2 separate regions of the Homo sapiens genome follow, and region 1 is linked to region 2. The links come from fine-mapping of genetic effects on gene expression. A gene starts in region 2. The other region holds a variant in brackets. All regions are shown on one strand. Distances are between the middles of the regions. Region 1 overlaps NFIB-AS1 (NFIB antisense RNA 1). Region 2 holds the start of NFIB (nuclear factor I B).

What was found. PIP is the estimated chance that this variant, and not a neighbour inherited with it, causes the effect.
Region 1: its variant is fine-mapped to the expression of NFIB in fibroblasts (GTEx, PIP above 0.99).

The regions. Positions count from the first base shown.
Region 1 is chr9:14,354,295-14,362,632 of GRCh38, forward strand. NFIB-AS1 (NFIB antisense RNA 1) reads left to right here. Exons shown (of 2, transcript NR_186536.1): 2 at 2,858-4,270. It also overlaps a transcript of NFIB not described here. Among named protein-coding and RNA genes, the nearest start is that of NFIB-AS1, 41 kb to the left of the region's middle. RefSeq lists an enhancer at 1,488-1,987. The variant G/T (reference allele first, on the strand shown) is at 4,388.
Region 2 is chr9:14,309,182-14,317,519 of GRCh38, forward strand. NFIB (nuclear factor I B) reads right to left here and starts at 4,960. Exons shown (of 11, transcript NM_001190737.2): 1 at 4,301-4,960. The coding sequence starts at 4,330. It overlaps NFIB-AS1 (NFIB antisense RNA 1), which reads left to right and starts at 7,906. Exons shown (of 2, transcript NR_186536.1): 1 at 7,906-8,164. RefSeq lists a silencer at 4,369-4,663.

The DNA of each region.
Region 1 (8,338 bases), 45 kb after region 2:
TGTGGAGCCTCCTGCAAGAAAGCTGCAGAGTGAACAGGGCTTCAGTCTCTGCTCTGTTTCTTTTAAAAATAAAGTACTAAAGTATTGTGCTGGAAATTCTGCTACTAAGTGTTACATGTGGTAGGTGTGAATATATGCTTCAATAGTTCCAGGCACAAGACCAAAATCTTCCCCAGAATTAGCAGAGTTTTCAGCTATAATCTGGCTAACATTTTTCTACAAATAGGTACAAAGACCAATTTGAGAGTACGGTCTCTCTAAGGGGCTACATGGTTGGGTTTCCATTGAAATTTAGGGCCATCCCTTGTACAGTCAGGTGAATTTTTAAGTGGGATCAGCCCTGGGGAATAATTATGTAGTCGCTGAGGGTTTTTCTCTCCTAAAATCTCCAAATCTAGTTTCTGAGGTGAGCAGTCAGTTATACCTCATGGCAATTTTTTCCTTCAGCATTGCATTTAAATGGTTATCTCTATGTAATGGGTACTCTGTGTGTGTGTGTGTGTGTGTGTGTGTGTGTGTGTGTAGAAATGGATTGTCCCGTGAAGGATCACTTGAACAGCAACCTTAGCTTTACAGATGTGAAGGGAGTGTGTAGCCCTTGTCCTGTTGTGAACACTGTCACTATTCCTTGTGCGGCAGGGGAGGAGCAGGTCTCTCTAAATGAGAGAAGCGAACCAGAGGAAGAACAGCAGCACAAATGAGATGACCTATAGCAACCGACCCCTGCTTCAGGGATGGGGAGATGCTGTGTGTGTGTGAGCATGTTTGGGTTGGAGTAAGCACAGTGACTTGGAACACTGCACCCCTCCCCAAAGGGAAAAGCTGTGTTACAGGCTGAACTGTGCCACTCCAAAATCACCCTTGATACCTCAGAATGTGACTGTATTTGGAGATAGGGCCTTTAAGGGGGTACTTAAGTTATTATGAAGTGGGCCCTAATCCAGTATGACTGGTGGAGTCCCTGTAAGAAGTGATTAGGACACAGACATGTATAGAGGGAAGACCATATGAAGACGGAGTAGGTAGCCATCTACAAAGAAAGAGGCCTCGGAAGAAACCAACCCTGCTGACAACTTGATCTCAGACTTGAGCCCCTAGAATTGTGAGAAAATAAATTTCTGCTGTTTAAGCCACCCAATCTGCAGTATTTTGTAATGGCAAGCGCAGCAAACCAATACAACAAGATGATACTCTGCACCAGCCCATTATGTACAGCCATTTGGAGATGCAGACCCAGGGTTACCAGATTCTCTATTTGAAGAATCTTTTGCTTTTTAAATATTGGCAGCAGGGCTGGCTTCCTGGGTGTGTGTCCTTTGCAGTCACACGGGATCCCATACTTAGAAGTGCCCCACGTTGGCTTAAATACCCTGCTTGCCTGGCCGGCTGCAGTGGCTCACGCCTGTAATCCCAACACTCTGGGAGGCCGAGGCAGGTGGATCACAAGGTCAGGAGTTCGAGACCATCCTGCCTAACACGGTGAAACCCTGTCTCTACTAAAAATACAAAGAAATTAGCCAGTCGTGGTGGCGGGTGCCTGTAGTCCCAGCTACTCCGGAGGCTGAGGCAGGAGAATGGCATGAACCCGGGAGGCGGAGCTTGCAGTGAGCTGAGATCACGCCACTGCACTGCAGCCTGGGTGACAGAGCGAGACTCCGCCTCAAACAAACAAACAAATAAAAAAAAAAAAAAAAGGCCAATTTGCAATTCTTAAACTTTCAACAACGGGCTTGCATTTTTGCATTGCACTGGTCCCTCACAAACTGTGTGGCCAGTGCTAGCTGACAACTAGTACACGTTTTAAATAATGTGCATATTAAGATTATGGGGTCCCAAACAAAATATGCCTGAGGCTGGGGCAGCGTGAGACACTAGTACGCACTTTTTGTCACTAACTGGATTAAAACTTCCCATTCTCTGGTAGTCACTAGGAGGGAACTTATGGATCCCAGAGGTTTTCTTGAAGTGGGAAAAAGAAAGGCACAGATACTCCCCAGGATGTTATTTCCCAAGATTCCACATGAGCTAGTGTGGCTCGGACCAAGATTTTCTTTTCCCAGGGATGGATACTGAGGATTTCACAATAAGAATATCTTGAGAAAAGGCCCCACACGAGGAACTAGTGTTTGGGGTTGAGGGCTAAGTTTAGCCCTGCATGTGGCTGATGCTGGTGGGCTTTGGGAAGCTGGAGCTGAATATGCTACCCAGAATGGTCAGCAAGGCCCTGAGGGGCAGTGCAGCCCCGTGTAAAAACAGCACCGAGACAGAGCAAGAAACAACAGTGAGAGCAGGACTGATTTCGTCTCCTGTTTTTTGCCTGGGGTTTACGAGCAGGACTCCTCTCTTGCACTCCACCAGTTTCAGGATTATTAAGGGGTCCTCAGCTGGGGTGAGTTAGGAGGGCTGAGCTGGAGAGTAAAACTGGATGGTCTGAGGGTCTGGGTGATCCTGAGCACTTAATTATGAATAATGATACACTTCAGTTTTATAGTGCATGCCATACCAGTGGATTCTAATTTGGAAGGGAAACTTTTGCTCTTGCTGAAAGGAATGTCAGTCACCGGTGAGTGGTCATGGGGCTGTTATGGGGAGATCCTGTTTTTAAGGATATACACTGATTTATAGAAGCTCACTGAAAATATTATAGCGGAATGTTTGGTCAGGAGGTCTGCTTTTCTAGTTCTATTTCTGCTCAGTACTGGCTAACTGAAGAGTGTAAATTTTAAAAGAAGTAATTTCTTATGCACACTGTGCAAAATCCCTCAGGGGAATGAGTGAAAGACTGTTTGAAATGCTCTGAATTTCTTGGAAAAGAGTTGCTGTATAAATTAATATAGGGCCTTCTTTTTCATTGCAGGTCTGCAGGACACACCAAAGAACTCCTCCAAGTCACACAAGGGAGAAAATTAACTTCATTGGCTTCTATCAGGAAAGCTATTTTTTTTTTCCTCTTCTTTCCTGCAAGTTTCCCAAACCCCATGACTCTGATTTCCAGGTCAGAGACTAAGGTTTTATTTTTCTTACTCTGTATACTTTATATGTGGAGAGTCCCTGAAGGAACACTGTGATGGGCTGATTACTGTGAGCCAGTTGTGGGCCAGACCTGGCCTCAGGTGCTGCAAAGGGAATTCAGTCACCCCTGTGCAGTGATCTGTGAGCCCCAAGTCAGATCCAACTTTTTCCTGATAGACAGCACCCTCCTCCTCCCTACCAAGAAATAGCAGGGTTGGAGGTAGTGACCCAATATTCAAGAGGTTTGAAATTCTACATGAGATATTTCTGAGTTAACTCCTAAATAGCAGTTTCCTTAATCATGTGGAAAATAAGAACACTTACTAAAGAGACCATTGGTTTAAGAGAAATGGAAACTTATGTCCACGTAAAAACCTGTAAATGAATGTTCACAGCAGCCTTTTCATAATAGCCAAAAAGGGAAAGCAATCCACACGTCCATCAACCAATGAATGGATAAACTTAACGTGGGATATACGTGTAATGGAATGCTATTTGGTGAAGAAAGAAATGAAATATTAATACATGCGTTAACAAGGATGGACCTTAAAATATCATGCTAAGTAAGAGAAGCCTGTCACAAAAGAATATGTATTGTACCATTCTACTTATATGAAATTCCTAGAATAGGCAATTCTATAGGGACAGAAACTAGACTAGTGATTGGCTAGAGCTTGGGGAGAGTTTGGGGAGCCTGGAGGATGACAGCAAAGTGGTGCAGAGTTTCTTTTTAGGTTGATTAAATGTTGTAAAATTAATTGTAGTGATGGTTGTGCAACTTTGTGATTTTGTTAAAAACCATTGCATTTTGCCCTTTAAATGGATGAATTGCACAATGTGTGAATTAGACATAAGTTTATTTACATAATTAATATCTATTTATTGATATATAACTCATATATCAATAAATATATACTATATAAAATAATTTTATATTTATATAAAATGTGAATTATATATAAATACATAAATAAAACTGCTAAAAACTAAAAAATATATACTTTAAAAAAAGGCTGTTCGTTTCTTTCACATTTTCTGAGCACAATCACTTTGGGATAAATGTGTCCAGGCTTAAAAAGCCAGATTTTATGGGCTAACTAAAATGGAAATGTGAAAAACTGTGTTTTTTTCCATAGGAGGAGAGAGTCTGATTTGCAGGTACGTGCATACCCACAGCAGTCATACTTGTAATTCTTGGAAACTTTGCTGAAAGTTTTTTCCTAGCCTGAAATCATTAAAATATGTTGAAACAATGACACTGAGGACTGAGGTGGATTCGTTGTTTTTGTCTTCCCAATGTTACTTTCTCCTTCTTTAGGTAGTAGCACCCCAGTTTTCTCTAAAAGAAACCACACACCCTATTTCCAGTTCATGT[G/T]GTTTGGCTATTGCTGACCTTACACCCTAGGCTCTATGACTCAGGCCCCATCAGTCAGCGTATTTTATCCAGTGGTCTGTTGCAGCCAACTCATATCAACTCATCCAAATCAACTGGTAAATGTTCAGAAATTTCATGTGCCAGTTGTTAAACACTCACCATTAAAATTTAAAGTTCACAACCTTATAATTAAATTATGTTAAAAATGAAGGTAATGATACATCAACCTTATCATCACTTCCTAATCATTTGACTGCATTTTACTATTATTTATGCTCTTGAGTTTACTTACATCTGTTGGATCTGGTAGTAGAAACACCGGATAATGGCGTGCTGCTATACATCTCTTCCCAATTCCATGTTCATTGACTTCCCTTTGATAGCTTGAAGTTGGCCATGGTAGCAGCGTTTACACTACAGAACTGGGCAAATGCTACAAGATCAGGGTATACCCTTTCTTGCCAAGGAGATTGTTAAACTGGCAGCTGTAGTGGGTTGAATGGTGGCCCCTAAAAAGATATGTCCAAATCCTAGCCTGTGGAACTTGTGAATGTGACCTTATTTGAAAAAAGGCCTTTGCACGTGTGACTAGGTTAAGGATCTTGAGATGAAATCCTCCTGGATTATCCATGTGGGCTCTATATACAATCATGTGTACCCTTATGGGATAAAGGCAGAAGCAATTTGACACAGACACACCAAAGAGACATAAAGATAAGATGAGGAAGCAATGGCCACACAGGCCGAGATTGCAGTGATGTGGCCGGAAACCAAGGAATACCTGGAGGCACCAGAAGCTGGATGAGAAAGAAACAAAATCTCCCCCAGAGCTTCCAGAGGTAGCATGACCCTGCTGACACCTTGACTTTGGACTAGTGGCCTCCATAAATGTGAGATAATCAATTTCTTTTGTTTTAAGCCACCAGTTTTTGGAAATTTGTTATGGGAGCCATAAGAAACTATTAATAATACACCAGCTCACCACTGCAGCACTAGTGTATGGTTGAGGGATGGGCATGTGATACAAGCTAGGGCAATGGGAACTCAGCTTCTATGGTAAAACAAACACTCTCCTTCTCCCTGGGGTTGCTGGGTGGTTCCATCTTTGCTACTAGATATACCTATGAATGAAAGCAGCGCAGAAAGTAGTAAAGTTAGATTTAAAGAAAGACATTTAAAGCAGCACAGAAAGTAGTAAAGTTAGATTTAAAGAAAGGCATTGTTTAAGAAACTGGATCTATTCTACCACTAGATTTTTAAATATTACATATTATATGAGAAAATTATTTTTTTTCTTTTTAAGCCAAATTCCTAACCAATGTAGACATGCTAATTTTTGGAGAACTTTTGAAAGTGCTCATCTGCACAGAGAGCATTTTAAATACATATAGTTGTTATCACTTGGTCAGTTACTATTTAAATGAGGCATAACTAAAAAAGACAATCAGGAAAATATATAGCAAACAGTGAACAACTTAAGACCTACCTGAATTCAATCATGTTCATTTGTGCTACAAACACTTATATTAAGCCCAACCCTTATCTAAAGCATTCGATTCAGGACAGATATCCATCTATTTAAGAGCTTACAATTTATTTGCCAGTAAGAAATTTGGTATAGCCCCCATATTGAGGTCACTAGCAGTATGAACTTTTCATTATATAGTTTATAATTTTCCGAACAGTTCTAAATTCAAGTAATTTTATTATTTTTCCTAAACAGAATTTGGTTAATGCACAATTAAAATACTTTTAATTCTTTATGAGATTACATTTAACTACATCCACAAATTATAACAAAAAGTATTTTGGCAAATTGAATGATTTGGGTGGAAAAATATTATTATGGTGATTTTCTGTTTTTTTCTTTTTTTTTTTTTTGAGATGGAGTCTCACTCTGTCGCCCAGGCTGGAGTGCAGTGGCGCGATCTCGGCTCACTGCAAGCTCCGCCTCCCGGGCTCACACCATTCTCCTGCCTCAGCCTTCTGAGCAGCTGGGACTACAGGCGCCCGCCAATACGCCCGGCTAATTTTTTGTATTTTTAGTAGAGACGGGGTTTCACCTTGTTAGCCAGAATGGTCTCGATCTCCTGACCTCGTCATCCGCCCGCCTGGGCCTCCCAAAGCCTGGGCCTCAAGCCTGGGATTACAGGCTTGAGCCACCGCGCCTGGCCTTATGGTGATTTTCAGTGATGTTGTACCTTTGGTTAATTTTGTACCTTTTGATAATTTTTATTTGTTAGTGTGGAAGAGCACTTTTCTGAAAGGAACATGTCACAGAAAACCCCAGGGATAGACATATTTCATTAATTATTTTTAAAATAAAAATAAAATGATTTACATTCAGCATTTCTATCTTTAATGATTTTTCCAGGTTTAAGAGATTTCAAATTAATTTTGTCACCCATAATCCTGTTTGTTTTCCTCCACTTTCAAATACCTTTGTTTTTTGATGAGCACATTTTGGATGAATTCCCAGTCAACTTTTTAATCTAATTAAATTCAGATAAGTTTAACTCAGATAACATTTACAGTCAGCTCCTTGAGAGTTGATTAACTGGGAGCTCATCTTTCAGAATTCTTAAAAAAAAAAAAAAAAAGACTTTTGAGGATTGCTTTTTGCTAAAAGAGCCCATTACTAATGCTGATGTCACTGGCATCAGTAAACTAACACCCACTTGTCTTGGTTTAAAATGATAATAGGCTTTCAAATGCAAATATTCAAATATCATATTATTCTTCAGCACTTCTGTATTTGCTAGTAGCATTACTGATCAAAAAGAGAATTGTTCTGAATATTTTCATGAACAAGCAAGCAAACCACATCACATCACATACATGCACACACATGCATGCATGCAAGGCACATAAATGATTTCACTAATGACATATAGCATACATTAGTCAAGCAATTGTATTAATTCAAGTCTACTCTCTTTGTAGTCTAGAACAGTCTCCCTCTTTGCTACACAACAGTAGCCACTAAAATCTTTTGGAAGATTAGGATCATTCAATATGAAGTTAAAAGAAAACATGAAAAAATGAAAGCTTAGTTTTAGGATTTCCCATTTTTTTCTTAGCCCTGTAATAGCCTAAAATAAAACTTGGGAACAAATGAGGTTTACCAATGACAGGAGTAAACAGACTCAATGTAAATGTTTATAGGAAAGGCAAGGAAGCTAATTCCTTTCCATTAACAAAAAGGAGCTTTTAAATCTTACTCATTCTTGATAATGCTGGCTAATGAGAAGCCCAGCAAGTTTGCTTTTTCCTTAAAGCTGAAACAAAACTCAACACAAAAGGTGAAATACAAGGAACCAAAGAAAATCATTGATTTGTTCTTTGATGACAACTTTATGCCAGAGGTACTAGGGCCTCTCTACATTAATTGTTTTCTTCATAAGGAAACCACTATAGAAATTTAGGTGAATGGAGATAATTAAGTAGTTCTGTGGCTCCAATTCTAACATGTCTTTTTAAAAAAGAAAAAATCAAATACCCCAACATTTGCCCAGGAACCAGAGGAGAAAAATAGCCTTCTAAGAGTTAGGCCCTCAAGATATTTCAAAGCTGCCTGGACAATGACTTGGAATGACTACAATGGTGAACCATTCTGCCTTGGACCCAAATCTAGATTTATGACCTAATATATCTTTCCCAACTCTGCCTGCCATAGTTTTATGAACATCAAGAACTGGGTGTCTGCCACTGTCAACAAATAGAGCTTCTCCAGAGCATTTCCATCCACAGAAACTCAAGTATCCCCAAAGGAACATAGATCGCAGTCTTCCAAGGCTGCCTTGGGATGCCTCAGGATGCCTCTAGCTTTCACCACAAACTGTGGGGAAACTGTTTTGGCAGGATAATTCTTCAAGAAAAGGAAGAATACCTGTTACTGCCCTGTGTTTTCTTGGTTTAAGAACTTTTGGTGAGGCCAGGTCCCGTGGCTCA
Region 2 (8,338 bases):
CCATTAGGTAAATATGATGAAAGTACAACTAATGACTCTTTAACAAAGAAGGTGTCAAAAATCCAATATAGATATGAATACATTTTGAAGAAGAAATTCGAAGTTTTAATGCTACAGACTGCAACATGTTAGCTGTTTGCACTTCAGATATGGAAGGAGTACATGTCCCATCCAATCAATAATGTAGTTATCAAGTGTTCTAACATTGCTGTAAGTGTTCCTTCACCAGAATAAGTATGAATCAAAATTTTATAACAATACAGAATGCTGATGATTACATCACAGCATGAGGCATACCCAAATGCCATAGAGGAAATCATTAAACCGATCAGTAGTTTCCAGCAGAGATTTGAACAATTCAGTTACTATGCGAGCACATTAAACTAGGCCATGGAAAGAGTTAAACCACAATCTGTTCTTTGTGTGGGAAGGCAGCCCTGCTCACAGCAACCACATCCCATGATAAGACCTCCCTATCTCCATACACTTTCTGATGCCATGCTTTTAGCTTTCACTGTAACTACAAAAACTTTGTTTATCCCCTTTAGGAATATATGCAAAAGGAAAGCCTGCTCAAGGAAATGTGGACTTAAATGTGCTTTGGAAACTCACTTCCTATAATCTTTTACTACGATTTATTGATATGACTAAAAAACACACATATATGCACTCACAAAACTAAAACCTTGAGAATGTAAAGAGCACATGAGGTGGAGTGGGTGGGCTCTGTCTCACTCATTTTACCCTTGCCATGCTTTTTAAAATGCAATATTATTTTATAAATATTAAGCCATGTGGTAACACGTAAGTACTTACACCTTAAGTACTATGTTCAGTGACATTTCATTTTCTTATAAAGACATCAAACACAGTTTTGATTAAATTTGAGTTTCAATATTTGATTATAAATATAATCTATCACACAAGAAAGCTCAAAATTTTAATGAGTTATTTTAAACAACCAAAATTCAAATTTGAAGGTTGAATTTGAAAATTCTTAGCAAATGCACACAGTTTTTAAACGTTCCTTTGACTTTGCTGTCAATGCTGCCAATATTGTTTTAAAACATGCTCTTTTTTTTGAGAAATAAAAGTAGCAAACTTTCTCAGGCTGCCAGTTTGCCTTATTGATATCGTTCAGGGTTTCACTATTATGTGAATTCAAGTGAAGCACTTATTTGACAAGGGGACATATCCTCCAAAAATGACTGTAAATTGAGGTTTGCTGTAAGTCGCATATATTTCTGTATTAACATGCCTAAATGTCATCTCCCAAGTGTGACTGTTTCCTAATGCTGAGTAACACTAGAGTCTTAAAGATTATGAGTGACATGAATATGGAACATAATAACTGTCCTGATACAAAAATATTTTTTTAAAAGGTGATTAAGGTTTTCAAATATCCTAACTAGTAGTGGATTATTACAATAGCATTAAGCAATCATAAATTCTTTAAAAAAAGCAAAACATATAAGTGATTTAAAACCAAACAACTGTATACAAAGGTAATAGGCAACTTTGCTCTTTCAGAATTTTTAGTAAAATGCATTGATGTTCAGTAATTCTCTTTTAAAACTTCCTTTAGTTGAACTAAATTGACAAAGTAAATAACAAAGTTACCAATTTCAGATATAAAAATAAAGAGTCTTAATTCCACTAGGCATATTTATTTTTCTTCCGTTTCCATGAAAGGGATGGATAATTTAGACCAACATAGAGGTAGAAGAGTAAATACTAGGTGCTCTTGGCGCATTGCTATATAACAACAAATCATGCAAAAAATGTACCTAAAGAACTTAAAAGCAACGAAAGAAAAATATATTTAATGCCATCATGCCAATTGAAAGTTATATTATTAATGGTTTACATTATTTTTAAACATATATTAAATCATATGATAGTTCTTAATTTTTCCTTTATATCTGATTTATACTGGTGTATAAATATTGGTTATTGATATGCTGATTTTGTAGCATACTATTTTGCTAAACATAACATTTAATGGTAGGTCCTTTTAAATTAAGATTTTTTTTCTAAAACCTAGATACCTTATTGCAACAATTGAGATACTTTTAAAAGTTTATAACCAATTAAGAATGATACTCTATTTTGCAATTTACATGTCCTGAGACATGTTTTTCTACAGCTACTAGGCTCTTGTGATACAAAACTACTGATCTGATACAAAAGTGACACTATTAATGTGGCCTCACTTTTATAACACCTATATTACCTGCAAAGTCACATGGAGCTTAGTGAAGTGAAAATTCTTAAGCTGAAATTCCTTCCCTGGTGTAGGCCTTGTTTTAATACATAAGCCTAGATTTATATTATTAAAATAGTAGAGAATATTAGTCATCACAAGTTATTGTTGTTAAGTGTGTATCTCTGAATACTAATGTGATAGCTGAATGATTATGCTGTATATGATCCCAACATTCCCTGTCTCAATGCTGCAATATTATCTTTAACTTACACAAATTAAGATAAAACTAGTGACTTTTCAATACATATTTGGAGGATACTAAAAATGCAATGTAATTGCTAGCAATGTTTCTGAAAAGCTGATGTTAGAAATATAGAGAAATGCACAATTATTCAATCTTTTACAGGTGAGAATAAGTGATGCTATACTCTGTAAGTGAAAATCTTGCTTTGATTTGTTTTATTTGATCACGGTGTAAAAATAATATCAAGTTAACACAGCTTATCAGAAAGAGAAAAATATATCCAGCCGATGGGTAATATTAATGGTAACTTTTACAAGTAAAGGCAATTCGTTATACCTGAAACAGTTTCATCATATTTATTGGCTATTATCATTCATGGCTTTTAAAATACAAATAGCTCAGCAACTCATTTTTCCAGTTTTGTTAAATTAAAGTGCGTGTTTACTTGCTGAAAATAGCCATATCTAAGTTAATCATACTCAGATGCCAAACAAAATATAAACAATAAAAAATGTGTCAGCCAAAAAGCTACAGGACTGTATCCAATCACTGAATAAGCCTTATCATTGTTTTCATCTTCATTCACAATTTATGAATGCCTCAGTCCTTTTGAATCACAATGGCTTCTAATTGTCATACAATTGAAATCTTAATTATTTGTCCATTATAAAAATGCATCATCGTGATATTAGATGTTTTTAAAATTTTAACACGCCCAAGACTGGCTGACACTTCTTTATATGACTAGTTTTCATGGCAATGTCAAAGAAAATAGTTATCAATTACCAATGGTGACACATCTTCCGAAAAGCTGAAATAAGCTGCCCCATACCTTTAGAGGTTTAAAATACTGCCTCAAATAACAGTTCTGGGCTAAGATATTTTAGTTACTTTGTCAGTTGTTAGTTCCCTGGGCAGCGATGAAAACTGCCCCCAGGTAAGTCTGTTGGGTCTCGCCGCTTTTCTATTTGACCGTCTGGCTTAAAGTGATACAAATCGTGTTTCTAAAAAGTATAAAACCAGTGTTTTATTTCATAACATTATTCCTAAGGTCTTAGGACAATTCTCAAAGTCGAAAAAAATGACCTTACTTCTACCAGCATTACTTAAAATGCCTTACGAGCTACGCCCAAATATCGTCAAATGAACAGGTTTCCACAAAAGGAACACGTTCTAAAAACTCCTTAACAATCACCAAGACCAACTAACTCGTGTCAACGTAAATACTGCCTTTGTGGTGCGGTCACTAGAAACCCCAAAGTGCAGCAGGTCACTATGGACCAGGGTTTCAGATCCCCAAATAAAGCAAAGGAATGGGTCCCCGGACCACAACCTCCGACTCGATTCGTCGCCCGCCCACCGCCTGCAGCGCAGTCCAGCGGCGCCCACACAGACTCGTGCTACAGTCCCCTCGCCCAAGTTCACTGGCTGTTTTTAAAAGCTTAGTCCCCCGTAAAGTCCTCCAAAGCCCGAGTCCACCTCAACGCGCGAGCTGCTGAGAGGGGCTACGGGCACCCCGGGCGGGGATGCCGCACCACAACGGGCACTTGAGGGGCCGCACGGGGCCTCGCACTTACAGGTCCCGGCCCTGCCCACCCCCCGGCGGCCTTGCCCGGCCCAGCGCCCGCGCTCCGTGCCCAGGGCGCGGGGCTGGGCGCTCGCAGTGGCCGTGGCGAGGGGCCGCTCCCGGCTCCCACGCCGCCCCGCGACGCCCGCTGCAACTCCGGGCCACTTCTCCAAGGGACGGGGATGTGCGGAGGTTAACTCAAGCCGCTAATTGTCCGCAACAAAACAAAACAAAGGCATTTCGGGCCAGAGAGAAAGCTCGAGAAAGCGACCGAGACATGTACCTGAGTGAGACAGATGGGAGAATACATCATGACTTCGCCTTAAAACGCACTTTCCGGGAGATGCCCAAGAAAATCTTCGAGAAGCAAGAATTTCATCTATTCATTTTACAGTCATCTGAGCCCCGCGATGCGATCAATCAGGACGGGGCTCTGCGCTGGATCACCGCAACTTCACAACAAACCCAGTCCTCCTTAAATAGCCAAAGATTCAAGTTCACTCGGCGTGCTAGATTTCCAGGGGTGAAATCCAATCTACACTTTTAACCCTCTTGCAGTCCGAGCGCGCTGGCCGTGCTTGCCGAGGCCGCCGCCGCCGCCGGTGTTGGCTGCTTTTCGCCTGGGTTTGGGGATTTGTTTTCTATTTTGCAGTTGTTGTTGTTGTTGGGGTGTAGGGGGTGCGCGAAGGTTCGGTGTGGGTTGGATTGGGGTGGTGGTTGGTGGTAAAATGCTTTTTCAAAAAAGGCGGGGAGGGGGGCGCGGGAGGGCGCAGGAGGGCGAGCGGGCGGGCGGGAGGGAGAGCGGGGAGAATGTGTCACCGCGCTGGGAAAGTTCAAGGTTACAGCCCCAAGCACTGCGGCAGGATCCCGGAGTGGTGATCGCAGGCGAAACTTTGCCGCGAGCCGACCATGTGTGTGCGCGAGGGGCAGCGTGAGCGAGTGCGCGCGGGTGGCGGGGCGCGCGCGGGAGAGGGCCGGGGTGGGGGCGGGGTGGGATGGGGGAGAAGGGAGAGGCCGGGGTGAGGGAGGGGGCGCGAGCGCTGATCTCTGGGGCGGAAGAGGCTCGCGGCGCGTGGTCCCCGGCAGCAGCAGCCGCCGCCGCCCGCGCCGGGTCTTCGGCGCCCGGCCGCCCGCCCGCCCGCCTCGCCCCGCGTCTGACCCGGCCGAGCGTGGAGGCTGCTGTTGCCGCCGCTGCCCAGAGCCCAGGGGTATCAAAACGATCTCCTGAAAAATTCCAAACGATAAATCCCGCTCTCCCGCTCGGCTCCAAACTCCTCTCTTTTCTGCTCTAGGCTCTTTTTTTTCCCTCCCTCTCTTGCTTTCTTTCGTTGCAAAACTTGGAAGTTGAAAAATTCACCGGTTCCACCCTCTGGACCCCGCTCGAGCTCTCTCCAAATCAGACTTAAGGATTGTTTTATTATTTAATTACACAATCATCGCTTTACTCCTCCTCCTGCAAACGCGCATTCCTTTTGCACCAGCCTCTCCACACCCCCCGCCCCCCCACCTTCCTCCTCCTCCTCCTTCTCCTTCTCTCCCCCCACCTCTCCCTCATTTGTTAAAGGTATCCTACCGGTGCTACAGAACCATGACTTTTTTTTTTTTTCCAAAATAGCTCTTCTTTCCGCTGCCCTCCCCACACCAGCACACACATACACACCCCCGAAAACCCGCCCTGGAAGAGGTATTTCGGTGCTCGCTGCGGACTCTTTTAAGCCGCGGGAACATCCGAGTGGGAGAAGCACCGAAACCGTCTGAGCCCGAGAAAGGAACGAGTGGAAAATTCCCTCACACCCAGGCCGCCCCCAGGCCGGGGCTGGGGCGCGGACACTCGCACCCGGGGCGGGCTCAGTCCGCGGAGCCTGCGGCTGCCGGGAAAAGGGGGAGGCCGAGCAGGCGGGGACCTGAGCGAACTTGGGCTCAAGTAGTTGGGGCGCGCCGGCGTGGACCAGGGGGGTGCGGCGCCCAGCCCCCGACGGCCCCGCCCGGAGCCCGGGTTCGCGGATAGGGAGGGGGTGCGGGTTCGTCCCGGGTCTGCCCACCAGGGGCCCGCACCCGAGGCAGTCGCGGCGCGCGGCGCTTCGCCGCGGTTTGCCGCCCTCCCCGGGGGTGCCCCGTGCACGTGGCCTCGCTCTGAGCGGGAGGACCGGGCCGAGCCGCCGCCGCCGCCTCTTGCTCCCTCCACCTCCTCCCCGCGCCCGGCTTCGCTCTCCTCCTCCTCCTCCTGCAGCCCCGCTGGCTGGCTCCCAATCCCCACCCCCCGGGGCCCGGGGCGCCGGCGGAAAGCGTCTCCCTACCCGCCCGGGTGCAGGCGGGGCGGGGCCGCGGCGCGCCCGGGGCTGCGGGGCGGGCCGGCGGGCGCGCGCGCGCCGCTGCAGCCCTCCAGAGGCTGCGGGCCCTGAGCCGCTCGGCGCCCGCGCCGGCTCCCCACCGCGGCGCTGCCCCGCCCCCACCCCGTCGCCCGTGCAGGCTCCGAGTGAATGAACTTGATTCCAGGGATTTTGAAGAAGGCGGTTCGCCTTGCACCCTTTCTGCACCCCCCGCCCACATACACACACCGCCCCCCAAATCCAGTTTTCTGCTTGGGGTGGATGGGGACGAGGGGGAAGCAAAGGCCTCCCAGACAATGGAGGGAGGAAAAGTGAGCGCCTGGGGCTCCGAGTCTACCTAGCTGGGGGATCCGGGGGGCGCTGGGGCTACCGGGTCCTCGCGGGCCCATCCCCAGGGCGGGGCCGCCCCGCTTCCACGGGTACTGCTGGGGCGTTTCGAGGCTCGCCCCCGATTCCCCGGTCCTCTTTCCACCGCTTCCCAGCTCGTGATCTGTCCCCTCAACTTTAGCCCCTCTCACTCCCTCTGGTTTCTGTCCACCGTCCCCTCTTCCCTCCCCCAGCGGACCTGGAGGAACCAGTGACTTTTTCCTTCACCAAGTGGGAGTTATCCACATCAAGCATTTCACAACGACACATCAAGAAAAGTAGGCAGGTTCAAGTCAACCATGAAATGGTCACTTTTTAACCCCGTCCTGTCCTCATTAGGGAAATGCTCAAACACAGTCCGTTTTCAAAGAGCGCTCTTAATGAGGCGAGCTTGCCAAGTTTACCAGCTGCAGCCCCCGTAAACCCAGAGCCCAAAGAAGAAAGGCGCTGGGGGGTGGGGAGTTCGGGAGGCCGGGGACGGGGGCTGCTGGGACTAGGAAGACAGGTAAAGTCGGGGAGATCGCGCGGACCCCTGCGAGTTAACCCTTTCGGCCACACGCCCTGGGAGCGGCCTCCCTGCGGTCCCCGCCCCTGCCCCGGCAAATCCTGGAGTCAGCGTTCTGACAACGTTAATTTCCTTTGTGCGGGTCATTTCTTCTTTTTGAAAAGCTGGGATAAAGTTGGCAGTCTTTATGGATGAAAGAAATGAGGTGACAGGGTTAATCCAAGTAAATACTCATTTCTCTCAGAAATTTTAGGCAACCTCATCTTAGATTAAACACACACAGACACACACACACAGAGAAACCACCAGCACGAAAGCATCACTTTGTATTGCACATTACACTGCATCCCCTTTCTCACCCTCACCAGATTCTGAGGGGAGGGGGTGGGGAAGCTCTACTGATAATACCAGCTTTAACTACTGCAGTTTCCCTTTGAACAAATATTCAATTTAACTGGAGTTAATTTACCATAAAAGACATTCCCCTTGGCAGGAATGCACTAATATCCTTGAACACACCTCTTTGAATGCCTGGACTCTCATAGAAGCCATTATTTCGGGGTCTCTTTAAAAATCGAGCGCCCATCTCTCCTTCTCTCCCTCCCTCCCTTCTTCCCTCCCTCCTCACCACACCACCCCCAGTGAAATCCTGGCACCCAGAGAGCACTCCTTTCAGCCTGAGAGCCCAGAACCAGCCGTTGTCCCCTGGCAAAAAGAGGCCCAGGGCTGAGCCCTGGGCAAGTGTCTCCCGACATCGCTACCCCTCCTCCCTTTATTAGTTTCCCTTTCCCAACAGAAACCATTTCCTTCTGCCACCAAAACTAGGTTGCATCCAAAAGTTTTTCACAAGCTTAAAAAAGAAAAACGAAAAATTGACAAGTATTACACAGAAGAGCCCACAAAAGCTTCAGCAACACCAAGGGCGAAGAAGCAGCGTCAGATCCAGGTAAGACCCCAGAGAAGTGAAGACGTCTGGGGCCTCCCAGGCCCATCACTTAGGGGTTCAAATCTCTTTCAATTGCCCCACGTTTGAGGGTGCTTATGGCTGGTTGCACTTTGATGACCATAGAGGATGCTTGATAGTTTTTGGTTTTGATTTGTTTCCCAGAAAAAGGAAAAT